4 linked regions of the Homo sapiens genome follow. The protein of the gene in region 4 interacts with the protein of the main gene of each other region in a biochemical or structural test. Each region holds a gene or a part of one and is shown on either strand. Other genes may lie near its edges.

Region 1 (7,027 bases), on a different chromosome or scaffold from region 4:
CTCACCAATGGATAATTAGCATTTTAATTTAAATTTCTTAGGGTGCTAGGCACTCTTTCTACTTATACTTTCTCTCTCTTGTGTTATATAACATTTAATATGAAATATATTTATATAACTGTATATATAATATTATCTGTGAAAGAAATGAAAGAAACAGTCACATACCAAATTAAAATGACTGTGGGATAGGGACATGTTAGTGCTTGGAAGAGAAACTTCAAACCACTCCAATCCTTATGCAGGGACTGCTTGATGAGTCTTTGAAGGTCAGTGATAATGACAGATGGTTATCCATTCTCGACAACTTACTGGTATATAAGCTAATGTTGTTCCACAACGAGTGTAACTGAACAGGTAGAGTATGCATTTAGAAAAATAATCCAGACTTGAAGGCTGTGATACAGACTATCATTTACTGAACACACAACCAAAAACTGGTCTGGAAAGACAATTAAAAATAATTGTTACCTGTACTACTCCATTTCCAGCAGTTTACCATTAACAAAGAAGGTAAGGAAGGAGCAATTATTGGTGAGTAGTTAGAGCCAAAGCATCCATCCTCCGTACTCAGGGCAAACTATGCTGGGTGCTAATAGCCCTGTTGATGCCTGCCAGTCAGAACTTCCATGGGACTGTTCAGCTGCTGAAACTGCTGTGGGTGAGGACTTTGTTTGAGACCAGCTCACATACAAAAGGGTGCAAGTGCTTTAATTAAAATCTTATTCTTCCAGAAAAAAAAAGAGACATTTTCTTTTTCTTTAATAGCAATGGCACAAAGTACCTCTATCTCTGTTCCTCACTCGGGCTATAAAATGCATCAACATTCGTTTTTCTTAAAGAAAAAAAATCCTCTATAGCGCACAAGACTTAATTTATCTTTCCCAAACAGAAGGAAGCATAAATAACCTTTTAGAGAAATCAAAAACATAAAGATGCAGTCTTTTCCAACTTAAAATTGTGTAAGCAGGACGTATGTAAGTTTTGTGTGTGCAATAGCTATGAACATACCTTGCAGATATAAGCACGGTTCTCCTATGTCTTCCTATTTGGGATCCCTTGCTTTGGTTGACAGTGTCACCCCAGCCAGGGGCAAAACCCCCTCAAAACCAAAGTGAAAAGGGAAAAACTGTAGGCAGAAAAAGGTGAGTGAATATCTTCCATCAAATACCTTCATGTCAAATTAATTTAAAATGCTTTGTAATCACAGTGAGAGAAAGTAAGCAGCTTAAAAAAGGCAGGAATACTTTCAAAATACCTGTTACTAATTGTTCCCTAGTCCAGCTAACACATTTCACCCAAAGGGCAACTTCTTACTCTAGAAAGGAGGGTATTTTGATAACCATATTATTCTGTGATGGTGTGATGAAATATGGAAAGACAGTGTACATATTTTTATATTCCTAAATGTGTGTGAGTTGCATGCTGGCAGACAGATCACAGATGCAAGAAGGAAGACAGCACAAAGAAACATGAAAGAAAACTCAATAAACCATCTTAGGGACTATTAAAAATTACTAAAGTTGTCAAATCATATACAATTTTCTATTAAAGAATGTCAAGCTTGGGGAACTAAACCAGAAACGTTAATAATAACCACAACTGACCCTTAATGGGAAACTATTGGTGCCTTTTTAATAAGTTGTGGTGAGGAGAGTTCAAATTACAGCATAACAGAATTCGTTTCGTGAATTAATGCAGTCTGTAGTAAGCATATCATATAGCAGTATTATCCAGTTAAAGAAAGATACAGTTGAAAAACATTACGTTTTAATTCTCCATGAGTAAAGTGATAAGTAACTATAAAATCATTATTGGGAGAACATGGAAACAGTCAAGCATAACGAACTTACAGAAAGATAATTATCTCCAAATTTAGGAAGTACATGTACCTGCCTACCCACCTCTTCAAGCCTATGCTTACCACACGTGCAAAAATACAATACAATACAACTACTGCAATTATTACTATCATTTTCTTTTGCCCTTAGGTGAAAAACACCTGACAGCTACATGCTGAGCCATGCTAACAAAACTAAACCTTTCACTTTCTTTAATAGTAAAATTACCATTACTGAATCATTGTCATAAAAAGTGCATTCAAGTACATTACCACTTATTTTAAATAAACACCAATTTTGAAACAATCAACTTTGAAAAGCTGCATAAGTTTTTTTTTTAATCCCTGATTACATTTCTATTTATTCACTGTGGTAGCCTGAAACATTGTATTTTTAGAGACTAACTACTGCTTAATTTCTTTTTTAAAAAAAACAACAACAAACCTGTGTAATATAGAACAGCAGTGAAGCAAGAAAAATGTGTGCTTGTCACTTATCTTCACCATACTGTACATAAGAACTCTGATAAAATATGGTACTTGTGCCACATTAGTATTTGGGAAAACATAATTAACTCATAGCACAGAGCACATGGTTTACCAACTTACTACTGTAAAATTCAAGGTTTGGACTTTCACCTCAGTTCTGTATTCAGGCTACCAGAGCATCCCCACGGAGGTCCTCGGGAGGCTTTGGACACAATCAATAGCATGTATTTTTCATCCAATAGTTAACAATGTGTGTAATTAACACTGACTATGGGACTACGAGTTTGATGCCAGCTCCTGAGTTTTCAGTTTATCTCAGTCTACTGTAGAAAATAACTTGTATGCCACAGTACCCAACAATTTCCATGCTGCTGCAGTTTCTCCATCAAGAGGATCAGACCCAAAACAGAAGCTTCTTTGGGGGCTTTTAAAATCACATTGGGTTGATCAGTTTTGTTTATCCGATTATATACAAGCACCTCAAACTTTCAGCATTCCATTTGATGAGTGGTATGCACATTTCCTAAAAAGGTATCAACATCTGAATTTTTTTGTAACCTTCTAAAAGAAGTCATACTTAATACAGTAACTAGGAAAAAAACCTCATCTTTATAAAGATCAAAAAACCAAAACCTACTAGGAATGTGTGTTTTGCTAAACAGCTTACTTATGTTTATAGTTGCTACTTACAAAAGTGACACCAGAAAAGAACCTGTATTCTGAATACAGTGACCAGAGCAGAATGTCTACAGCCCTTGCCAATATAACAACACTAATCATGTGCTTATTGAAAAGGACTTCCAAACATGTCAGGCTTCTGGTTTATGGATCAGCAGTTGGAGCTGTCTGTCTCTCTCACGTTTTCAATGCTGTCTTCTTTGTTTTCTGGTTGAATTTCGCCTTCATCCTCCTTGTGTTGAGTTGGATCTTTTTCAGCAACCTGGTCTTTGGTTTGGGGTTCATGTGTAGAAACAGGATCTAAAACTACAACTGGTTCGGCTTGTTTTTCACCGTCAATGTATTTTTTCCTGCATCCAATGCTACTGGGAGGCCTATGAGATGAAGAGTTAGACAAAAAAAGTAAAAAGCAGAGAGAGAAAATAGTTGTCTCTGATATTCTGGATTCAGACTAACATAAAACCCAAAATGTTCTAAGTCTAATCAACATGCATATAGTAGTCTTTGAGATGCCAGCCATTTAAAAGAAAAAATGAAGCTATCAGATTACACAGCTGATACTAGGAGCACAAGGCCAGAAGAAAGAAGGCAGAGAAAGAGCGATTAACTACAGAAGTGTTAAAAAGCCAAATGCACCTACCTGCTTAATTGCATTCTCTTCTCAGGAAGCGTAAAGCTCATGGACAAACTGTGAACTTCTCACAGCCTGCTGCCCAGACCCCCACCCGCCCTCACTTAGCTGGATGGAGCCAGTTAACTCCCTTCCCTCCTGTGTGTCCCTGGGTATGGCTGGTTGCAGGGTAGTGCTGAGGAGCCTGCAGGGACAAGGGGAGTAATCACCCCTCATCACTGATGGACAGGTGAGAGGCATGCTGACTGCTGCCATTACCAACTAGAGGAGACCTGGTCAGACTTCAGGAGGGGGTGGTGGTAGGACCAAGGGCGGAGAGAGAGCCAGAGTAGAAGCTAAAATGCTAAGTTACCATTAATGTTTCTAAAAGGAGAATCAGGTTTCTTGAGAAATTTCTTATGGAATTTCAGAGGCAGTTTTCCACAGACTCCTTCTCTCGTCTCTTCTGCTGCAAGAAGCTATGGCTTCTCAGGCTGAATGGGTGAGGATTTCATTATGGGAACAGATATCTCTGAAACACCCGAAGGTTCAGGCTGCTGAGCTGCGGCCTGAAGGTGGAGGCAGCTGCAGCAGGCAGGGCTGGGGCTTTCGGACTTTTCTGGTCTTTTTGGAAAATGCTAGGATCAGGCCTTTTTGTCCCTGAGAACTGGCTGTTAACCATGACCCGGCACACCACCATCCCACCTCTTGGTGTTCCGCCAGGTGCCAGTGAGCTGCCAGCCAGTGCCTGCCCACTGCTCTACCAGCCCCTCACCAGGAGTTGGTTTCTACTATTCTCTGACCCCTTCAGCAGGTCAGAGCTGGCAGGAGACACTCTTTTACCACCTAATACCTCTCCCTTGTTGGACTTACCACAATTGTTTCCTGTCTGTCTCTTCCAATAGCATGTAAACATCCACGAGGCAGGGACTGTTTAGCTTTACTCACAATTCTATCCCCAGCACCTAGCACAGATGCATTTGTGGACTAAACGAATGGGCAAATACTAATAAACTGAAGGGTTCAGAATGAAGGGGGAGAAATCAAGGTTTGGGTGTGAGTAGGTCTGGATGTCTCTCTTGCAACAAAAACAACAGAACAAATGATCAACTACTGAGCAAAAGTAACCTGCATGACCCGGTCACGGGCACAAAACCTCAAACCCAAAGACCACACTGCTTTTTTCACTTTCTGACCAGTACTGTAAGATCTGTCCAAATGTTTAAAAACCACTCCCTCTGGCTACTGGGTTATATTACCTATGTGTGGCTCGGTCATCATCCTAAGTGACAAACACTATGTCTTCCTTGGAGGTGGTAAAAACAAAAATAATCAGGAGCCTGGGGACAGGCTGTGCTGTAGTGAGGACAGATTCCTTTATTTTTGCCTGATTATGGCACCATGACATTGTCCATCTACCTTGGCCAAGGAACTACTTCTCCAGACATCTGCCGCTATGCTTTGGGAATCAGAATGGGGTGTAGTTTCTCCAGTGGTACCTGTTTTGACTCTCTCTGACCCACACAATATTTAAAAGCCTGTGATGGGAGAAGCAGAACAACTATGAGTAATATTAAGGATTGATCAGAGGAATCAGACCTTAGGGAATGAGAGGCACTAGTCATGCCGTCTGTGTAAATCTGCTGCTTCTGCGTCTGACACTGGGCCTGCAGTCAGCTGTTCTGACAGTTGGGAGGGAAGGCGGCTGTAAAGTGACAGAGACTGGGGACAAACTAGAGCTGCACCTATCTCTCTCTCACAAGCACCAATCTTGATGATGCAAGACAATCTGCAGAATAAGCAGGAGCCTTCCCCAAGGAGCTGCACATGCACCTGCCCCAGGATTTGGAAAAGCTGGAGGAGGAGATGTGGGGAGCTGGAGAAACTGTGGGCCAGTCACTGCCACATGCCAGTTAGGTGAGTCAGCACATCAGGAATGTCATGCACAAGCTATAACAGAGCCTGCCCTACACGGACCTTCCGAGGGTTAAAAAAAATTTTTTTAAGACAACTACTTCACTTCCACCTTCTAAATCTCATGCAGATTTATCTGTCGGCAACTCTAAACTGAAAACAAACAGGTGAGGAGATTCTAGGAAATAAAGCTGCAGCCCAGCTAAGGTTCCAGGGAAAGTCCCATCCAAGTCTGCAGATTGAGTCACCAGTACGAAGGTTTCACCATCTTGGGCCTGGGCCCACTCTTATGTAAGCCAGTCAAACTGCTTTCAGCATGCAAAGGAGGTAGTATTTCTCTCATTCTAGGTGAGCAACTTCCATCAACCCATACTAACCTTCATCACTTCTGTAGAACTACCATGGATGTTTCCATGCTCGTGTGTGTCTGTAGGTGAAGGGGTGGTGCACAGATCCTAGAAAAAGCTTTCTTCATCAGCTCAGGGCTAAAAATTTCCAGGAAGTGCTCTCTGGGCTCCACAGCAGCAATACATGGATGTTGATTGAACTGAAAACTCATAAACCTAGTATTGTCAGGCTGAAATTGTCCTGGAATTGTCTCAGTCCAAAGAACGATCTCCCTGTCCTGAAGCAAGCTTCTTGACTGCAGATTAATCTATTATTAAGTCACTTATAGGCTACAATTTGAGAACCCCTTTGTTATCACTGAACTAGGCGCAGTGGGCATTTTCTGAATCTAGGCATGGAGGGAGAGTGACTGGTTTCTCAAGGATAATGACCACTGCCTTAGAATCCCAGTGGAAGGTGGAAAGGGACTAGGGCAATCGTCTAGTCTGACCTGTCCTTTTACAGATGAGGATGATGGGGCATGAAGAGGGGAAGGAACTGGCCCGAAACCACACAGCTCATCAGTGGCAGAGTCAGAACAAGAGTCAGAAGCTCCTGTCTCCCTGTTTCTGCCTTTTCCATGACAGCATGCTGTTTCTCAAAGGCATCTTCTCCTAGAAACAGGAGGCTACAGGCTAGTTTTTGGCATGTTTACTGATTTCATTCTTTCCGAATCCGTTTCCATCTCCATCTTCCAGATCTGTAAATAAAGTCTATCCCTTCAAGCTATCCCTTAGTTTTAATTTTTCCCCTGTGGTTTGTAGCTCCTCCTGGCTTGACATCACTAGGTCCACTCTTGGCTCCCACGGGCAGCTGCCCAAGACTCCTTCTGGAATGAGAGTCCTTTCTTTCTCCTAGGCCTCATTCTACCTTCATTCCTATCGTATGGGAAGAGCCACAGAGCCGCATCAGTGATGGTGCCAAGAACCCAAGTTCTCACTCTAGTAGTCATGGTGGCAGGTTCTAGAGGGTTAAATATGAAGCTTCTCCCCAAGGTAGAAATCCCAGAAGCTCAAATGCAACACTTCAATGGGAATTGTAATATACTGTCATTCTGTTCAATTTTTTTTTCTACTTTAATGCAACCTCTAAGGACTAAGACCACAATA
Region 2 (7,027 bases), on a different chromosome or scaffold from region 4:
CCTTTGTGGTAATTAAACCAGATTCTTCATGAGAAAACCTCAAAGAGGAAGCCAGTATTGGGTGATGTCAGTGACTGCTGTCTTTTCTGCAGCGTTGCCCTCCTAAGATATGCTCTTCTAAAAGAAGTAAAAGATTTTCATTTCTTATGGCATTGTTATTAAGAAGGGTAAATACATGATTTTAAAGTAGGAATATTGTGTTAAGAAAAATGAAATAATCGAACAAGTATGGTGCCAATATAGCTGTCAACAAAGTGTTTTTTTAAATTACTTTTTTATTATTCATATATTTTTTTGAAACAGAGTCTCACTCTGTTGACCAGGCTGGAGTGCAGTGGCACGACCTCCCAGGTTCAAGCGCTTCTCCTGCCTCAGCCTCCTGAATAGCTGGGATTACAGGCGTGTACCATCACACCCAGCTAATTTTTGTATTTTTAGTAGAGACAGGGTTTTGCCATGTTGGCCAGGCTGGTCTCGAACTCTGGCCTCAAGCGATCTGCCCGCCTTCGCCTCCCAAAATGCTGGGATTACAGGTGTAAGCCACCATGCCCAGCCCAAAATTACTTCTTTTAATCATTACTCTGTACCTAGTTTCATGTTTATTAAGTGGCAAACAACTACATCAATATATATTCCTTAATGCATTCTTGGAATCAGTCTAACTAGTCCAACCCTCCGTATCTTAGCTTCATCTAGGTTTACATTGTTTCCAGATAGAAATGCTTTCTTTAATAAGAGGCTAATTAAGAATAATTTAGTAATTATATACAATGGGTATTCCTGAAGCATTTTTGCAGTTTAAACATTTTTTTTGTATGTTTGTATGGTATTGTTTTCTAATTTGTTTTTTAGTGTTAACTCCTATTTTGAAAGAAAAAAATTCTCACAGGTTTATGGCTAGTTTCATTTTTTTCCCCCTTTTTAAAAAAAGTTTTTAAATGTAAAGTGTTTTTAACAAAGTTACACTGTATGTGGTTTAGTCAAAAAGCTTCAAATAGCTGATCTTTTTTTTTTTTTTTTTTTTTGAGACGGAGTCTCGCTCTGTCGCCCAGGCTGGAGTGCAGTGGCGCGATCTCGGCTCACTGCAAGCTCCGCCTCCCTGGTTCACGCCATTCTCCTGCCTCAGCCTCCCGAGTAGCTGGGACTACAGGCGCCCGCCACCACGCCCGGCTAATTTTTTGTATTTTTAGTAGAGACGGGGTTTCACCGTGTTAGCCAGGATGGTCTCGATCTCCTGACCTCGTGATCCGCCCGCCTCGGCCTCCCAAAGTGCTGGGCAAATAGCTGATCTTGAAGAACAGCAGTGCCTGCCTGACCCTACACTCCTCCTGATTCAGCCCTGTCAACCTGGGATTTCTTTTATCCATAACCTGCAAATTTCCTATGCTTCTCTGCTGAATTATATCCTGTGTTTTTAGGTATCTTGTGTCTTATTATTTCTTGATTTACATCCCGTTTTCATTTAGGACATCTGGTAGCTCCCCATGAATCGGTGCACAGAAGATATATTTTTTTGAGAATTTGCATTTCCAAAAATGTTTTCATTTTACTCATACTTGAATGGCCCTTTTTGGTTTTCTGGGTTACAATTCTCATTTGGAAACAATTTCCCTCCAGAATTTTGAGAATATCAGTCACTGACATTGTTTTTTTTCTAGCTTACACTGTTGCTGTTGAGAATTATGAAGCCTTTTTGACTGCTAATTCTTCATATGTAATCCGTTTTATGTTATCTGTCCCCCCCACTGTCCTGGATCCTGGTATGATCTTCTGTATGTCGGTAGCATTCTGAAATTTCACAATGACATGAGTGGATGTGGGGATCTTGGAATCTGAATAGTTCCTGTTCTTAAATTTCTGAGACATTATTTTAAAAATTACTTTGTTGATGATTTTCACCTCTTTTTCTCTGTTCTCCATCTGGAATCCAATTATTTGAATGTTGAACTTACTGATTTCTCATCTACCTCTTTTTTGCTTGGTTTTCTTATTCGCTATCTTTTTTCTGAGATTTCCCCAGCTTTATCTTTCAACAATTCTATTGAGTTTTTATCTTGTTTTTAATTAATTATCTTTTTAAAAATAGCATCTTTAGTCTCTTGGAGTGCTAGAAATGTTCGGTATCTAGGTGTTGATAACACAGGTATATGCACATGTAAAAACTCATTGAGCATTTAGTATGCATATGGTGATTAATTATTAACCTGCTTCTGTATTACAGGTTCTCAACTGACAGTAAACCTCAGGCTAAAGACTTGTTTTATACCTTCCAAAGCTAGTCTACCATCTTTAGAAGCTGGGGAAGGGGGGTGGGCAGCTGCCAGTTGGTACAGAATTAAGGAGGGTATCTACGAGTCCACCTGTTTTTTACCATTATTATTTAGAGACAGGGTCTCATTTTGTTGCCCAGGCTGGAGTGCAATGGTGCCATCATAACTCACTGCAGCCTCAAACTCCTTGGTTTGAGCAATCCTCCTGCCTCAGCCTCCCAAGTAGCTGGGACTACAGGCGTGGGCCACCACATGTGACTTTTAAAAGTTTTTTGTAGAGAAGGGGTCTCACTATATTGCCCAGGCTGGTCTCAAACTCCTGGTCTCAAGTCATCCTCCTGACTTGGCCTCCCAAAGTGTTGTGATTATAGTTGTGTGCTAACCCTTCCAGGCCTACGTGCTTTTTAAATAACTTGCAAGCAGTTCATTGGGGCTAAGTCAGTTACTTTCTTCTGCTTTCCAGCTTCTGAAATTTTGTTGCTGTTGTCTCTTCTGCTGTTATTTCCATTCTTGCTGGCTTGTATGTCTAAAAAATATCCATTTGCTATTATGTTAGTGGGCTTGGAAAGGATAAAAACAATGTGTATGTTTAAGCTACAATTTTAACCCAGAAGTCTATATTTTTTTTGTTAAATCAAGTTTGCATTTCTTGGTTAAATCCAACATAGTTTTGATGTAGTATTTTTAAATAAACTGATGGATTCAGTTTGCTAATATTAAAGTTTATTTCAATTTTTGCATCTGATATAAGTGAAGTTGGCTTGTGGTTTTCCTTTTTCTACTGTCCCTTTTGATTTTTTAAAATTAAAGTTATATGAGACTCATAGTACCTTTTCTGTTCCCTGGGGAAACAGTTTGTATAAGATTGAATGGTAAATTCTTTGAAAGCTTAGTAAACTCACCTGTAAAATCATCTGCACTTTGTATTTCTAGTAGGAACATTTTAAACTGGTGATTAAATTTCTTCATTCATCAGTTTTCTTAGATTTTTCTAAGTCTTTGACCATTTTGTCTTAAATGATTGCATAAAGATTTTATTTACTTACATATTTTTTCTCTTGTATCTGTAGTTTTGTTTCCATTTTTATTTGTGATATTGTCTTTATTTTTTCTTGTGTAATCTCATCAGAAATTTGCCTTTTTTCTATTAGTCTTTTTAATGAACCAGCTTTTTGCATGGTTGAGTATTCAGATTTCATAAATCTATTCTTATTCGATAGATTAGAATATGTTATGGAAAAGGTGAAGATTGACTTGTTTACTAAATTCTAAACTTTCAAGAGCTAAACTTTCAACCCTTGAAATTTGAAAAATATATTTTTCATAATAAAATGATATGCAGGTGCTCATCATTATCCTCAAATGCTGCTGTTATTTAAAACTGGAGGTTTAAGAATAGTTTAGATCAACTTACGGATGATAGATGTACATGAATTAAGAAATCTTGTGATCCTTTTAGTATAGGCTTTTTGATTAAACAAAAAAGGTTCTGCAGTCTTAGAGCTATACCTGTGAGGGAGTCCAAAGCTAAACAGATCTTTGATTCAATCTCTTGTTTTGTGTTCTTACCATTAAACTTTCTGTCTTAAACTTCTGAGGCTCTTTCACTAGGTTTTGTGCTGTTATGCTGCATATACTTAAGTATTTTGTGATTTGCTCTACTCATAAATATCTACCACCTCAGGTAAACCTTTCCCTGACTTTATTTTACCTATTTAGGCCTTAAAACATTTATACCTTAAATATTTGTAAAATGGCTGAATCTTCCTAGAAAATAGAAAGTTTAAAATTTTCTCATTTGTATGTTCATCATTATCTCCTTAAGCACATATCTTTGAGCATGTGGTAAAAGGTATAAGGTGAATTGGTCAGTGTAGGGGAGCAATAAGAACAGCATGCTGTTCTTTGGATGATGATATATGGGTAAAATGTTCTTGATTATCTCTTCTTTAAATTTCCTAATGTTTTTTTCTTCAGGATCCTATAACTCATCTCTGATACATATAATTAAATATTTAATAAGTTGTAGTCCAACATGCTCAAATGGAAAAATTGGAAAGTTACAATTTTCAGGTTTAAAGTTTGTAACATTCCATCTTTACCCTTCAAATTCTTTTCATCCTCTCCCTTCCACAGTATAGATAGTAAGACTTGTTTTAGTATATTAGATCTTACCTCCCAATTGAAATGGAAATGTAGCAGAGGTGTTCATAGTCCAAACTATTTTAAATTCTGTTTTTAAAAGCAAATTTCTTTCAAGCTTTTTCCCAAAAATTTGGAAGTCATTTTAAAAAGTATTGTGGTTTTATTGTTTTCTATCCTTTTTAAATGAATTTTTTTCTTAGATCTCCAAGAGGTTTGTCTCATTCTCCTTGGGCTGTAAAAAAGATTAATCCTATATGTAATGATCATTATCGAAGTGTGTATCAAAAGAGACTAATGGATGAAGCTAAGATTTTGAAAAGCCTTCATCATCCAAACATTGTTGGTACGTTTAAATTTGGTAGCAGTATCTGGTATATTATTTTGTTTATTCAGAAACAGCTTATATGCTCTCTTAACTGGTTTCACTAATAGAAATGAAGAGGATGGGGCTGGATATTTAATGGGTATCAAATTAATGTGATTGGTCTAAAATAAAAATTTGCATATAGTATTTTTTGATGCCTAAGTATATAAACTTCATGAGAACAGATATAATAATTATGTTGCTAGTTCTATGAAGATTTTAAGAATATAAAATGATCTTCATTTAGATAATTTAAATCCATTTAGGTAATTTCCTGGATTTCATTTTTCATTTTTAATACAAGTAGGGCTGGTGAAACTATTATATTTAGGGAAGCAAAGGAAAATAAAAGTATTTTAATTTGTGGTACTACTGGCAAACACTGAAGGCATTTTAAATGAGATCTACTGAATTAGTCTTGTAAATAGTAGCTGTTTCATTGTATATTTGTCAGCGTTAGTCCAGATCCATATTTTCAATCACGTTACTATAAAGGACTTAAATATTATTGTTCTTCTCTATATTAGTGAAGAAATGTCATGTTTTCTTTAAGGTTATCGTGCTTTTACTGAAGCCAATGATGGCAGTCTGTGTCTTGCTATGGAATATGGAGGTGAAAAGTCTCTAAATGACTTAATAGAAGAACGATATAAAGCCAGCCAAGATCCTTTTCCAGCAGCCATAATTTTAAAAGTTGCTTTGAATATGGCAAGAGGGTTAAAGGTAACTATGTCATTATATTTTAAATGACTTCTGTTTTTGTTCATATTTTAAATGAACAAATAATCACTTTGCAGGACATCTTTGAATGTGGATGGATATTGTTACTTGTCAGTTCCAAAAAGGGGTTAGCGGAAAACAAAATAGAGGCTTACATTTCTGCTTCCAAATTACATTCATGTGTAGCTTAATATGTTCTGAGAAATGTGTCATTTGGCAGTTTCATCACTGTGCGTGCGGACATCATAGAGTGTACTTACACACACCTAGATGGTAGAGCCAACTACACACCTGGGCTATGTGGTATATATAGCCCAGTTCTCCTAGGCCACAAACCTGTATAGAATGTTACTGTACTGAATACTATAGGCAGTTGTAACACAGTGGTAAGTACTGTGTGACTAAACATATCAAAACATAGAAAAGGTAAAATCAAAATATGATATTATAATCTTATGGGACCACCGTCGTATATGTTGTCCATCATTGACCAAAACATCCTTATACGTACATGTGGCCCTAGTCATTCATTGTCCCACATGGTCTCAACAATTTATGTATGCTTCACTGAAGATTCCAAAATTATTTCTAAAAATTACTAGACTAGCCTCAAAATTGTGGTATCTTTTGAAATCTGCAGTTGTATCTTCTGATATAAAGTATGTAGGATTAGTTAACTTACCAAGTTAACCAATTTATAAGTATAGTTAACTTATAAGCTGTCGGTATATATACATACTTATATATAAAAATAGTTAACTTGGCTGGGTGTGGTGGCTCACGCCTGTAATCCCAGCACTTTGGGAGGCCAAGGCAGGCAGATCACGAGGGCAGGAATTTGAGATCAGCCTGGCCAACATAGTGAAACCCCATCTCTACTAAAAATACAAAAATGAGCCGGGCATGGTGGCGGCACCTGTAATCCCAGCTACTCGGGAGGCTGAGGCAGGAGAATCGCTTGAACTTGGAAGGCAGATGTTGCAGTGAGCCAAGATCGCGCCACTGCACTCCAGCCTGGGCAACAAGAGCAAGACTCTGTCTTGGAAAAAAATAGTTAACTTATAATTATTTATTTTATAAGTATAAAAGGTTAGCAGAAGTATCTATTTCTAAATAAACTTTTAGACTTCTGGTCAGTATGGCAGACTGAGATAACATGGGATGTTCCCTTCTCTTGTTTCAAATACTTTGAAATGCTGGGCACAGTGGCTCATACCTGTAATCCCAGCACTTTGGGAGACTGAGGCAGGCGGATCACTTGAAGCCAGGAGTTCGAGACAGACCAGCCTGGTCAACATGGTGAAACCTCGTCTTTACTAAAAATACAAAAATTAGCCAGGTGTGGTGGTGCCCGCCTGTAGTCCCAGCTACTTGGGAGGCTGAGGCAGGAAAATCACTTGAACCCAGGAGGCGGAGGTTGCAGTGAGCCGAGATCGTGCCACTGCATGCCAGCCTGGGCAACAGAGTGAGACTCCGTTTTAAAAAAAAAAAAAAAAATTTTGAAACGCTGGACAAATGTAAACCTAGA
Region 3 (7,027 bases), on a different chromosome or scaffold from region 4:
GAAGCTGGAAGCCAGCAGGACATGAGACCCCTCCTGTAGCAGGAAGTGGTTCTAGAACTCCCAGCAGAACAGAACGGAAAAGGAGCTGATTGGGGATAGAATGAGTTCTGCTAAACAGCCAGATGCTCTGAGAGAGGTGACACTGGACTGTCTCGGAGGTGTGTGCAGATGGCTACAGGTGGCCAATCGTGGGGGTCCCCAGGGTGGGATCCCAAAGCTGCTCTAAAGAGTCTCAGAGAGCCCCAGCGTGACTCAGTTCCCCTCCTGGGGCCGCAATGGCTGTTTCTGCTCCCAGAAAGGCAAATGGATCTTGTAAAAATCCATGGTGGTTGATGCCATTTTTTTCATAAAAAAAAGTTTATACAGTGAATCGCTTTCCACCAGCAGAGCCTGAGCCGAGAAGAGTCCATCCTGGGGAAGGAGAAGGCACTTCTCACACCCTCATTAGGGGTGTTCTGGGCTGGCAGCTTCCCCGGCCCCTCGGGTTCCAGCTCCCTCTGGCCCTGTGGTTCCGGCCTGCTCCCTCTGGGAAGCATGCTGACTGTGTCAAGCTAGCACCGCCCTGTGGCCCGAATGCCCTGGTGCCTCACAGGGTGGTGGATGGCAACTTCCTCACTCGCCGCTGGGCCAGGATGGATGACTCGATGGGCTTCAGCTGGGGGGTGGGCTTGGAGCTGTTGAGTGCGGAGTACGTGGCAGCCATGGCTCCCTGAAAGAGAAGTGGGGAGGTCAGGTCACAATGGTGGGAGATGTAGCGGGGAGGGGATCCATGCCCCAAGGGTAGGCCAGCCCCTCTCAGTGTTCCACAGCCCACTTTTTTTGGTTTTGTTTTTGTTGTTTTTTTTTTTTTGAGATACAGTCTCACTCTGTCACCCAGGCTGGAACGCAATGGCACAATCTTGGCTCACTGCAACCTCTGCCCCCAGGGTTCAAGCGATTCTCCTGTCTCAGCCTCCCAAATGGCTGGGATTACAGGCGCTTGCCACCACACCTGGCTAATTTTTGTATTTTTAGTAGAGATGGGGTTTCACCATCTTGGTCAGGCTGGTCTTGAACTCCTGACCTCGTGATCCACCCACCTCAGCCTCCCAAAGTGCTGGGATTACAGGTGTGAGCCACCGCGCCCAGCCTAGCCCACTGTTAATCCAGCCTCAGTGGTCCTTTATGGTCATGGGTCCTGCCTCCCCCATCAGACTGGAGGGTTCAGAGGTCAGCAGCTGTGCCTTCCAGAGGATTGGGGGCTGTGAGTGCACCGTGACACTGTAGCATGTTAGGCTCCCTGACGGCAGGGCTGTGTCTTCTTCTCCTATGTTCCACCTCATGGTGCTTGGTACAGACATGGCATTGCCTGGCTCTTCCACAAGTCCCTGACCATGCCACCTTGGGCTGACCCCCCAGATGCCCAGCAGCCCAAGGGTGGCCATACCTTCACAAGCTGTAGGTCCTGGTGGGACAGCTGGCTTTGGGGAAGCTTGTCTTTCTGGGTGACCCATGGATGCTGCAGAACCTGCTTAGCTGTGAGGCGCTGGTGGGGATCCACGTGTAGCATCTTGGACACCAGGTCCTGGGGACACAGTGGGCAAGGGGGTTGGGGGAGGGCTGCAGGGGAGCAGGCCCCTGATGGGGCACAGGAGGGCAACCATCTCCTGCTAGCTCCCGCCTGAACCCTTGCGGCAGCCCCTGGGATCCATTCTCCACTCTGCTCCAGGGCTCCCCGCACACAGCCAAGGTTCCTGTCGCTGGGCCTTTGCTGCTCTAGGCCCTTCGTCCTGGAACACCCTTCCATTTCTCCTTTGCCTTCAAAAAGCCATGTGGGAAGGTGGGAAAAGCCTCAGGTTTGGGCTCAGACAGATTCAGGTTCAAAACTTGCCTTCTGCACTCATCAAATGAGTGCCCTGGGCAAGTTCCTTCAACTCTCTGAGCCTCAGTTTCCCTGCTGAGAAATAGGAATAACCACTCCCTGCCTCACAGGTTGATGTGAGGTGGCCGGCCGTACATAGAGGGTTCAACTCTGTCTGGCATACAGGTTCCCAATGACCAAAAACTGTTGCTAATACTGAAAGCTCACATGCTACTTCCTCCGAGGAGGCTCTGCTTGGCATGGCCAGTTGCTCTGCTCTGTGTCTCCACGGTCCACACCCCTGGCCAAGAGCGTCCGCCTATCTGTGCCTCCAGGCATCTCTGCCCCTTGTGTGCAAACCTGTATCCCTCACTACACTACGTTTCCACAAAGCCGGGACTGTGATGATGCAGCCCTCAGTGCCCCACAGGGTCCAGAATGAGAAGGGCCAATGAATGATCACCAGGTTACCCCAACAAGGTACGGAGGTGGTGGTGGTCTGCCTGGGAATCTTCCGCTTGGAGAAATACAGCAACAGGGATTTGTGGAACATCCGCTTGGAGAAATGAGGCTGTTCATGAACTGCTGAAAAGCCCTAGGATGGGACCCTGCCTCCCTCCTCCAAATAAGCCCACGCAGGCCGTACAGACTCACCTTGGCTGTCTCTGAAACTGTGTTCCAATTTCCCCCACTGAGGGTAAACTTCCCACTGCCGATCCGGGTTAGGATTTCCTCTGGTGTGTCACTGGGACCGTTGGCAAATGGAGTATATCTGCAGAAAAGCCCGCACGGTCTGGGTACAGACTCTGGCCTCCATACTGGGGCTGGGGCTGCGGTGGGAGACTGTGTCTCCCCCTCAGATGGGGTACTCCCAAGGTAGAGCTCCTGGAGGCAGGAGCATGTCCCTATTTCCAGACCATCCTGGGGCGGGGCTGGCTGAGCCATTCCTATCAGACAAGCACCACTCAGCCCAAGTGCTAGGGCTGCAGGAGTGGGGAAGGGTCCAGGCCAGGGGCACTCACCCTGCCAGCATGGTGTACAGCAGAATGCCCAGGCTCCAGATGTCGCAGCCTTCATCGTAGCCCTGGCGCTTCAGCACCTGGCAACAGGGCAGGGGAGGTGGTCAGTCTGGGGGGGCAGTAGAAAGTCGCCACAGATGTTTCCTGCTACTCCCCTCAAGGGCAGGACAAGGGTCCCAGGCACAGGCTAGATCTTCCCTTGCCAGCTGGGCCAAGGTCACAGAGACTGGAGTCCCGGCTAATGTGGGGCCTCTGGGAGGGGGCACAAGGCCTCCAATTCCCCCTCACTCTTACAGCTGAGGAGGCTGGGCCACTCACCTCAGGCGCCACAAAGTTGGCTGTGTAGCAAGGTGTCATGAGGAGCCCATTCTCAGCCCGCAGCTGTTTGGCAAAACCAAAGTCACAGATGCGCAGGCACTCGGGATTCCCGGACTCGTCCACATACAGGATGTTGCTGGGCTTCAGGTCCCTGTGCACAACCTAGGGGCAGGGGGCTGGGGTCAGTTCTCAGTGTGGGGAGGTGGCTAGTGGCCCAGGTCAGCGGCCAGAGATTAGAAAGCTACACAGACAGGGTGCAGAGGGACGGGTGCATGGACTTGGCATCCGAGAGAAGGGGAAGGGGCTGAAATGATGGTCTTATTGCTGCTGCTACTGACTCTGTGTAGGTGTCTACAGGTAGCTCTAAGTTAACCTGTCAAAACTGAACTCTCAATTCTCCCCTAAAACCTACTCATCACATAATCTTACCTTGTGGCAACTCCATCCTTCCTGTTACTTAGGTCAAAATCTTAAAAGTCTTTTTTTTTTGAGATGGAGTCTTCCTCTGTCACCCAGGCTGGAGTGCAGTGGCACGACCTCAGATCACTGCAGCCTCCGCCTCCCGGGTTCAAGCAATTCTCCTGCCTCAGCTCCCAAGTAGCTGGGATTACAGGCACCCGCCGCCATGGCTGGCTGATTTTTGTATTTTTAGTAGAGATGGGGTTTCACCATGTTGGTCAGGCTGGTCTCAAACTCCTGACCTCAAGTGATCTGCCTGCCTCGGCCTCCCAAAGTGCTGGGATTACAGGCGTGAGCCACCACGCCTGGCCCTATTTTCCTTATCTTTAAAATCAAAGAATACACTGCTTTACTTTTATCTGTAGCACTTCCCACTACTTAACATAATATTTAATTTGTTTTCTGAGTCTGCCCACCGGCATGTAAGCTCCCTGAGTGTTTTGCTCACTGCTGTATCCCAGCACTTAAACTAGCTCCTAGTACATGGCAGGTATTCAATAAATATCTGTTGAATGAATGGATGAATGACACTTACTGCTGAGGCCATAAGCAAACGGCTTTCCTCTGGGCCCTGTTTGCTCATCTGTAACTTGAGGGGGCTGAACCACCCCACATTTCATTCTTCTCCTCCCCACACTCTGTAAGGCTTTTTTGTTTTGTTTTGTTTTGAGACAGGGTCTGTGTTGCCCAGGCTGGAGTACAGCAGCATGATTCATGGCTCACTGCAGCCTCAATCTCTGAGCTCAAGTGATCCTCCCACCTCGACCTCGCAAGCAGCTGGGACTAGAGGCATGTGCCACCATACCCAGCTAATTTTTAAAACATTTTTTGCAGAGACAGGGTCTCGCTATGTTGCCCAGGCTGCTCTTGAACCCCTGGGCTCAAGTGATCCTCCTGCCTGGGCCTCTCAAAGTGCTGGGATTAAAGGTGTGAGTAACTGTGCCTGGCCTGTACAGTTCCATTCATAGTCAATCCTCTAACTATCAACTACCAATACCTCTCAGATCTCTAACCCTAGTCCAGAACTTTTCCTGAGTCTTGGCTCATAAATCCAACTGCCTACCACAAGGCAACCACTGGATGTTCCACAGAGCCTCAAACTCAACACATCCCACACTAAACTCCTCATGTTCTCATCTTCCTGCTCCTCCTCCCCTAAGCTAATGGAACCTCCCTGGGCATTGTCAAAAAACCTTCAAAGGCTCCCTACCTGCAAGATAAAGCCCAAAGTCCCTACCCTAACATGGGAGGCACAGCCATCATCTGTTCCAGCCTCACTGTCCATTGCATCCCTCAGGTGCCCTGAGCTCAGGCCACCAGGGGCTCCTTCGGTAACGATCATAACCCTATGTCTGTGGAATGCCCGTTCACCTTCAGCACCCAGTGCAGGGCCTAGCACAGAGCAAATGCTAAGTGAACTTTGTGCAATGAATGAACAAATCACACCTCTGAAACACAGAGACAGATACCTTGCAGGTTAGATTAGTAGAGTTTTGCAGGTTAGTTGGTTTTATTCAGATAGTCTTTTCATAGTCTCAGTTGATCTCCAAGCCCTCCAGCAATGCCCGTGGAGCCCGTGGAGTAGGTAGACATGGCCCAGCACAGTCCACCTCCATAGGGAGAAGAGTGCCAGGTAGATGAGGGGGAAAGGGCCACACTGTTAGGGTAGCCCCAGCAACACACTGTATCCAAGCCTTGGAGAAAGTCCCGTGGGCTCCCTCCTTCAAACACAATCGTATGCCCACAGCACAAGGCCAGGCCCCCAGGAATGTGGACTCTACCTAGAGGTCAGGGATGCTCAGCTTGGCTGAGGACACCAACTACCCTGCACAAGTGAACTTCCAGTTTACAAAGAATGTTACCAGTCGTGATCTCACTGGAGCCATCCACTGCACCTCGGCGGGTGGACAGGAATTATTAGCTCCATTTTACAGAGGAGAAAACCAAAGCTCTGAGAGGACAATTTTCTTTTTTTTTTTTTTGAGATGGAGTCTCGCCAGCAGCACAATCTTGGATCACTGCAACCTCCGTCTCCCAGGTTCAAGCAATTCTCATATCTCAGCTTCCCAGTTAGCTGGAATTACAGGTGTGCACCACCATGCCTGGCTAATTTTTGTATTATAGAAACAGGGTTTCACCCTGTTGGCTAGGCTGGTTTTAAACTCTGGCCTCAAGTGATCTTCCCACCTTGGCCTCCCAAAGTGCTGGGATTACAGGTGTGAGCCACTACGCCCAGCCTGAGAGGACAACTCACTTGCATGTAGGTTAGAGGCAGAGGCAAGACCAGAACCCAGTTCTGACCTGAATTCCATAGTCTTTCCAGTTTAGTGTGGCACACATGACACTACTGGGACACAGGGATATGGAAGTTGACCTTTTTTTTAAATTAATTTATTTTTCTGAGATGGAGTTTTGCTTTTGTTGCCCAGGCTGGAGTGCAATGGCGTGATCTCGGCTCAGTGCAACCTCTGCCTCCCAGGCTCAAGCAATTCTCCTGCCTCAGCCTCCCAAGGAGCTGGTATTACAGGCATCTGCTACCATGCCCAGCTAATTCTTTGTATTTTTAATAGAGATGGGGTTTCATCATGTTGGCCAGGCTGGTCTCGAACTGCTGACCTCAGGCAATCCACCTGCCTCAGCCTCCCAAAGTGCTGGGATTACAGGCGTGAGCCACCACGCCCGGCTCAAGTTGTTGATCTTTTTTCCTACCCTAATACAACATAGAGAAACTACAAATTCCTATAGGAAACTGTCTCACCACTGCCAGTGGCAGAATAGTAGGGATGGTGAGTGGGGGAGGGGAAGTACAGCTTTAAAAAGCCCCACAGGTGATTCTGATACCTGACCCTCAGGAGTGTATGTTGGGGGAGGAAAAGTATAGTCTCACATCTCACCGCATGGAAAATCACAACAGGCTGGGCAAGTAATGAGTGAAGCCAGGCAGAGTGGGAACCTCCAAGCAGTCCACAGAGGACAGCAGCTACCTGGCTCCAGCTGACAGTCACTACATAGCAACTCGGACCCAGTGTTTTTAAAAGCAGCCAAATTACCAAACCTTACTAAACCATACCTCAAATCAAAAAACACCCCTTATCTTGCAGGCCAAACAAAATATATGTGTAGGCCAAATGCAGGCACTGGAGCAATAGGCCGTGACCTCCAGGAGAGTTGGGATTCCAGTCACAGGAAGGAGTCGGGCAGGCCAGGGTGTGAATCCTGGCTTTACTATCCACTCACAGCTGTGTGGTTTTGGGCACGACATTTAACATCTGTAGCCCTCAGTTTCCTCACTTGTAAAATGGGGCTGATAATAGTATTCAACCCCAGGCTTATAGAGAAGGACAGGAATATTTAGCAAAGGGCTTGGGAAATGATGGACATCACAGTAACC
Region 4 (7,027 bases):
TGCATGAACAACCTACACAGCTGTACATGGCAGTCCTGTGAGCTCCTCAACCTGAACGCCAAACAGTATTTCCACATCCAGGCTTTTGTCTTTGCCCTAGAATGTCCGCATGCATTTTCAGTTACAAATGGGAAGAGAGAATTATTTCACAGTCCCACAACCAAGACTGGGTCTAATTAAGATGCTAGTGCCATGAATCAGCCCTAGAGAGTGAAAGAGTGGTTTAAGAAATGTAATCGTTTTCTCCCACGCCCCTACAGGGATGTTGTGTTTGGACTTACCGTGGTAATTCCAGCCACATGACCCAGGATGGGGACCAGTCACTGGGTGGGGCCATGTTGTGGTTGGAGTCCAGGGCTGCTGGGCTGCTGCAGTCTTCCTGGGGCTCATACTCTTTGACTTCCAAAGCTTTGAGTACTATCGAGGATGATGTTCTTTTCAATAATGCCACTGCCTCACTCCGGCTGACCTCTGTCAGTTCGACCCCATCCACATTCAACAAAATGTCACCTGATGGCCAGAGAAGCAGAAGCTATCTTTAGTGAGAGCACAAACAGGGACTTCTGCTTAAAGTGCAAGGGGATAGGGGCTGACTGGGATTGCAGGGATGCAGAGAGGGCAAAGGTTTTCTTTGTTGACGGGAGGCTGGGTGCTCACATAGCAAATGGTAAACAGTGTGTGCATTCCAAGGTGCTGTTAAGACTTGTTTGGGGTTTTCTAAAGCACAGCTATCGGTGTTTTACACAAGAATACCGCTGAAGGAAGGAAGGAAGGGAGTGAGAGAGGAAAATTAGTCTTGTTCACTATTTAATCAAAGAAAACCTACTTTTTCACTCTTTTGTTTCTTGTTTTTAGCATAAAGTAGGAGGATTTGGCAAAAGCTCCAGCATTTGCACGGAGCCAGGCATGTAGTAGGCCTCCAGTAAATATGGATTGAATGAAAAGAAACTACCCATGAGAGTGTCTGGCAGAGGAGTCTTGGAGCTGCACTCTTAAAGAAGCAGAAAGAAAAACATTTTCATTGCTAAGGTGAAAATAGCTACTATTGGTTAAGCGCCTACTATGTGCAGGATCATTTCCATATAGATCATATAATCCTCTAGCTTATGTTCTGTTAACAAGTCATTTGTTAACAAGCCACTTTGTTTGGCCTCATCATTTTCCACCCAGATGTTTTGCAGAAAAGAGAAATTAAAATATACATCTCCCCTATTTCCATTTTCTATTTTTTTATCTTCATCCTGTTTTTTTCTGTCCCCTTTTGCTTAACTTTCTTATACAGAATAACCACAGCAAGAGCAAAAAGACAGGAGGAGAAAAAAGAGAAAGGCCTTGAGTCCTTTCTGACCCGAAAGAAGCATCTTTCAGACAGCTGACTAAATCTCTTAAGATACCATCCCCCTGTGGCTCCTCAGGCTCAGCAGCTGTACTTGGGAAACTTCACAGTTTATCTCTTGAACCTGGACTTTTAAATGGCATAATTCCTCACCCATCTGAGCTACCTACCCTCTTGAATGAATTGACAATATTATTAAGGATACATATTTGTAGAGGCAAATTTGATATCATCTTCCTTTATTTACTCAAAGTAGCCCAGAATACATGAGCTTAAAGTAGTGAAATAATTTTCACTCTGGGAAAGTATCCAGCATGATACTTTCACTTAATGAGTATTCATTGAATCAAATCTATCAAATGACTTTTTCTATCTAACCCATATAATTGAATAATTCATGAATTATTTCATGAATTCCACCACCGGATCAACCCACTAAAGAACCACTTAGAATGAATGGAACTACATTATGCCATTTAATAGAGGTAACTTGCTCATAACTGTAGCAGTTCTCTATTAATTCCTGGAACAGTTTGGAGATTCTAGCTTTACTTGCAGGCAAGTTGGCCTGCAACTAAGAAAAGTGGAACCTGGTCTAGTATCTATACTCAAACCAATCATGGTCAATGGGTAACAAAAGTCCTGGCCGATCACTCCCACATTCTCTCATTAATTTTGAAAATAGTCACCTAACAAGCTACTAATTTCTCTTGATTCTCTGCCACCCCAGTGCCTTTAAAATCCCTTTACTTTTTACCTGTTTTTATTCTTCCATCTCTGCTTATGACTCCTCCGGGCTCAACACTGATGACATAGATAGGCAAATCCCATTCTCTATGTGATGCTCCCCCTGCGACGGTCATGCCGAGAGATTCACCGGGGTCTTTTTGGATATTTACCACCTTCTCATGACAAGTAATTGTAGGATGGAGGGGCTGAAGGCACAGATGGAAAAACATGGCACATGAATTCACAACTCTGGTAGTTTTTGAATGTAGAAAATGCAAAGTGGGTTTCCATTTTCTAAATGCAAAAATTACCAAAGCTGCATAAATTATGCAAAGTGCATAAATACAATGGTGGTTCTTGAAATCACAGAGAAAGACACCTGGAAAGAACCCTCACCTTATCCACTCCCAACCATAATAGGGTTACATTGTCCCAAATTCTACAGGTTAACTCAGATAAAGTTTACACTTCAAAAGGAAAGAGTAAAAATGGAGGAAGGAACCGATTACAGACCATTAGAAAAATATATTTCTAAAATATTTTCATAGAGAAAAAGTATTGCTTTGTTGCTCAGGCTGGTCTGGAACTCCTGGCTCCAAGTGCCTTGGCCTCCCAAAGTGCTGGGATTACAAGCATGAGCCACTGCTCCTGGCCATGGAGGAATCTTAAGCACACAGAGTGAACTGCACCCAAAATTTCTCAAGTGAGTCATTTATTCCTGATAGTAGTGAGTCAGCATTTCAAAAACACTCTGTCATTTATAAATATCAGAAACTTTTCTATGTTAAAAAAAAGTAACCATATTTTATAGAGTCTTCTTTCACACCTGCTCAGTGCTTACCAGGCAGCCTTGCCTGCGGTGAGCAAGAGATGTTTAGTTGTGCACTGAGGGGCTGGATGCAATGGCTGAAATACCACAAATATGGCATGTGTGCATGTGTCCTGTCTCATGAACCAGTGTCCATGACCATTTCCTTTCTTAACCAGAAAAGCGACCAATGTCAGCAATGGAAAAAGAAAATCATCTGTGAAAGCTTCACACCCAGGGTTACCTGACTTTGGCTGGAGAGGAGGAGAGTTACGTATGAAAGAGATGACTTTTCTATCTATCTTTTTTCGCCATTCTCCTCACCCTACTTTGGACACCTTACAATGTTCCTTGATGTTTAAAAACATAATTTATGGTAAAATAGTTTAAGCTAATTAAAAACACAATGGGTACCTGAATATTTCTCAAACTATAAGATGTATTTCCATTTTAGAATATTTGCTTTGGATATTTAGAATAAAACATTTTAGACAAGTAAAAAAGCATAAAGAATAACAGAATGACCTACCCATGTACCTCAAAACCCTACATCAGAAATAAACATTCCATGTGCACTTAGTCGCTCTATGACTCTTTCTGCTCATAGGCCTTGCCTCCCCACAGAGGTAAACCATGCAAAATTTGATGCCTAGCATTCCTTAACTTTTTTAATTGGCTAAAAGTTTTCTGTCCCACAAATCCTGCTTTGTCTTCTTTGGTATTTCTTTGAATTGTTTAAGCTCTTATTTTTAAAAAGCTACCTGGTTTCCTAAACCAAACAAGATTTTAGTAAGAATATAAAAACTGAAATAATCAAAGAGCCATATATGTCTCAGTTTTTTTAAATATGTTACTTTTTTGTGAGGATATTTCAGAAGTCAGATAGAATATAAGTTAAAACGGAAATAATTACAATTCCGACTAAGTCAGTTTGCACGTTTCCAGGAATTAAGACATATGACAGAGGGTTGCAGCAGAAATGTGACCAGATCCTCCCAGCTCTTTCATGATGAGGAGGTGGAAGGAATTCTAAAACCACAGTGCAGATGGAGGCTACCTTCTCCATAATTTGATGACTTAGAATATGACGTATTCTAGTTAATTCAACTAAAATTAGTTAATTGGATAAAAACTTCAATTAATTAATTAAGCTAATAAACTAGTTTTTCATTAATAAAGATGATCAGTTAAATTTAAACATTAAGCATTTACTAGCAAAAAGACATCACGGAGTCCTTATCCATAAAATGTTTTAGCAGGATATATCTGGTCTGTCTAGACTCCTTATTGTAGAGAAACAGGTAATTTATGGATTTATGAGGCTTGGCTGGCTGGAGAACCTGGAGGGGTGTATAACCTTGTAGGCTATGTAATTAACATAGTATAAAGCAGAGATGTTCCAAAATAAAAAATTTGAATATTGTTTCTCTATATATTACTCAAAAACTCAATTTGTAAGCTATTCCAACCAACATATAGATTGACGTAGAAAGAAAAGGGCATTCCCTACTTTCTGTTGCAAGAAGAATGAGCTACCTTTAAGAATTTTTTTTAGTTACAAGTGATGCCATGAAACCAGAACTCAGGAGAGATGACTGAAAGAAGCTCATCAGCATCACAACAGGATGCCAAGCCAAAGCTATAGGACTCTTAATTTGGACTAAACAAGGTTTGTGTTGCTTAAACACGCATCCAAATGAAGAGGTTAAGGCATTGCCTCTAATAGAAGCCACAGAGAGAAGTACAAATTGGGCTGAGTCACTTCATTTAAAGTGAGGCTGCAAACTGGTGGCCTGAAGAATGAATTCCACCCACAGATCCACAGTGTTTTAGAGTTTTCTGGATTTGAATGCCATATAACATGTGCTCTCTGGTTTGCCCCAATCCCCACCACTCCCTAATGTTACATGAGCTTCAAGTGTTTAAATTATCTTCCTGGGCCCTTCGGCAAACACAAACAAAAACTAAAAGTAGCGGGGAAATCACTCATTTCTAGGCAGACTGAAAAATTCAAAAGCCAGAAACCAGGCAAACTGCTTGCTTCATTTCAAAGTGAATAAAATAAGTCCTCAAACAAGATGACTCTTGGTAAAAACATGCCATTTATTTGGCTTAGGCTAGAAATCAGGTCCCTGTATGAGGTCTGCATGATCAGGTTTCAAAACTTTCCTGCACCTTCTTCTCTCCTGCTTGGATGGGAGACACCTGTTATCTCTCCAAGTCTTAAATATGGGACTTTGGGCTTTTAGTTTTACAAGTCAAAGTGTTTCTTTAAGTAAAAAAGTCCAGAGATGACACTTAGACATGTTAAAACAAGCAGCCTTCCCAAGAAATAGCCCCTTGCAGGAGCAGGCGACCTGCCCTAGAGGCCTCACCTTGGGAGTGTTGCTCCTCTCCCCTGGCCCTGGGGACCAGCTGCCATTGCTGTTCCAGCCGGCTTCCTGAAAGATGTCAGGGCTCCGCTGCCGAACCTGGCGGGACACGACGAGGTGAACACGTCTTTCACTGGCCTGGGCAAGAAGACACAGGCATTAGCCACTGTCAGTTTCCATCCACTGCATTCAGCACCAGGAGCTTACAAAAACATCACTTTGATTATACCATTTTTTTATGGCAAAACATGATTTCTAGTTTGTTGGGTTTTTTTGTTACTATCCATCTTGTAATTTGCCAAGAGCATGAGAGCTCTTTCCTTTATCCTTAAACCAGGTAGTAAATGTTGCTCCAAGGGAAAACTAGGGAAGGTTTGGTTCCTTCCAATCTTTGAAAAGGCATCATCAGATATTGCTAATTCATTTTTAATTAATGGTTGTACCACACACAAGCCATGCCCTAAGTTCTTCCCAGATAGAATTAGGTGCACTGTGTAAAGTAGCAGCCCAAAGCAAAGATCTAAGATCAATGGTACACAGTAAAGAAAAAGAGATGGAGTTAATGGCAGTAACTTGCCACTGCAGGAAGAGAAATCCTGAGCCTGACACTTGCAAATATTTGGGCATAGGAAAGGTTTAGCACTTTAGAAATATGGGGATGACTTCATACATTAATATGTACAACCTAATCAAAATCCTTTACCTTCAATTCACAATCACAAAGACATGGAATCAACTTAAGTGCCCATCAACTGATAGGTAGATAAAGAAAATGTGGTATGTATATACCATGGAATACTACTCAGCCACAAAAAAGAATGAAAAAATGTCTTTTGCAGCAACTTGGATGGAACTGGAGGCCATTATTTTAAGTGAAGTAACAGAGGAATGGAAAATCAAATACTGCATGTTCTCACTTGTAAGTGGGAGCTTAGCTCTGGAGATGCAGAGGCAGAGTAATATAATGGACTTTGGAGACTCAGAAAAGGGGAGGGTGAGTGGGGTGAGGGATGAAAAACTGCCTATTTGGTACAGTGTACACTATTCAGGTGACAGGTGCACTAAAATCTCAGACTTCACCACCATACAATGCATCCATGTAACCAAAAACCACGTGTATTCCTAAAGCTATTGAAATACAAAATGTTTAAAAAACTGCAAAAGAGTAATTTGCCTTGATTTCTTTATTTTTTATGGAACTACCAGTTACTCTGCTAATTCTCTCTGCTATGTACATTGATATTTGGACAGGCATTCAGAATAGCAAATATAGTACTTATTGGAAAGGTCCACTCCACATCATCGATATGGTTTGACTGTGTCCCCAGTCAAACTTCACCTTGAATTGTAGCTCCCATAATTCCCATATGTCATCGGAGGGACCTGGCAGGAGGTAACTGATTCATGGGGGTGGGTCTTTCCCATGCTGTTCTCGAGATAGTAAGTCTCACGAGATCTGATGATTTTATAAATGGGAGTTCCCCTGCACAGGCTCTCTTGTCTGCCACCATGTAAGACATCCCTTTGCTCTTCCTTCATCTTCCACCATGACTGAGAGGCCTCCCCAGCCATGTAAAACTGTGAGTTCATTAAACCTTTATAAATGACCCATTCTCGGGTATGTCTTTAATAGCAGCATGAGAGCAGACAAATACAATGATACATTTACAAATTGTCTTTCTGCCACAGATTAGTTTCACATGTGTCAGGTAGTATGGGCCATTATTCCAGAATTGCTGACCATTGAGATTTCAGAGCTGCAGGTCATTCAGACTAAATCTT

Evidence for each region.
Region 1: the proteins of LNX1 (region 4) and SHTN1 form a complex in vitro, tested with the Homo sapiens proteins (2 studies listed by BioGRID).
Region 2: of the proteins of LNX1 (region 4) and PBK, one has a biochemical effect on the other in vitro, tested with the Homo sapiens proteins (2 studies listed by BioGRID and IntAct, with this or other methods).
Region 3: the proteins of LNX1 (region 4) and RPS6KA1 interact in a test that uses a peptide from one of them, tested with the Homo sapiens proteins (2 studies listed by BioGRID and IntAct).

The regions. Positions count from the first base shown.
Region 1 is NC_000010.11:116,883,186-116,890,212, forward strand, and holds part of SHTN1 (shootin-1), read right to left. Parts: intron 3,382-7,027; coding exon 3,159-3,381; 3' UTR 1-3,158. UniProt on the Homo sapiens protein: Involved in the generation of internal asymmetric signals required for neuronal polarization and neurite outgrowth.
Region 2 is NC_000008.11:27,820,794-27,827,820, reverse strand, and holds part of PBK (lymphokine-activated killer T-cell-originated protein kinase), read left to right. Parts: intron 1-4,615; coding exon 4,616-4,758; intron 4,759-5,332; coding exon 5,333-5,502; intron 5,503-7,027. UniProt on the Homo sapiens protein: Phosphorylates MAP kinase p38. Seems to be active only in mitosis. May also play a role in the activation of lymphoid cells.
Region 3 is NC_000001.11:26,567,761-26,574,787, reverse strand, and holds part of RPS6KA1 (ribosomal protein S6 kinase alpha-1), read right to left. Parts: intron 3,340-7,027; coding exon 3,178-3,339; intron 2,940-3,177; coding exon 2,863-2,939; intron 2,613-2,862; coding exon 2,495-2,612; intron 1,565-2,494; coding exon 1,427-1,564; intron 710-1,426; coding exon 587-709; 3' UTR 1-586. UniProt on the Homo sapiens protein: Serine/threonine-protein kinase that acts downstream of ERK (MAPK1/ERK2 and MAPK3/ERK1) signaling and mediates mitogenic and stress-induced activation of the transcription factors CREB1, ETV1/ER81 and NR4A1/NUR77, regulates translation through RPS6 and EIF4B phosphorylation, and mediates cellular proliferation, survival, and differentiation by modulating mTOR signaling and repressing pro-apoptotic function of BAD and DAPK1.
Region 4 is NC_000004.12:53,476,472-53,483,498, forward strand, and holds part of LNX1 (E3 ubiquitin-protein ligase LNX), read right to left. Parts: intron 5,384-7,027; coding exon 5,249-5,383; intron 2,272-5,248; coding exon 2,094-2,271; intron 511-2,093; coding exon 282-510; intron 1-281.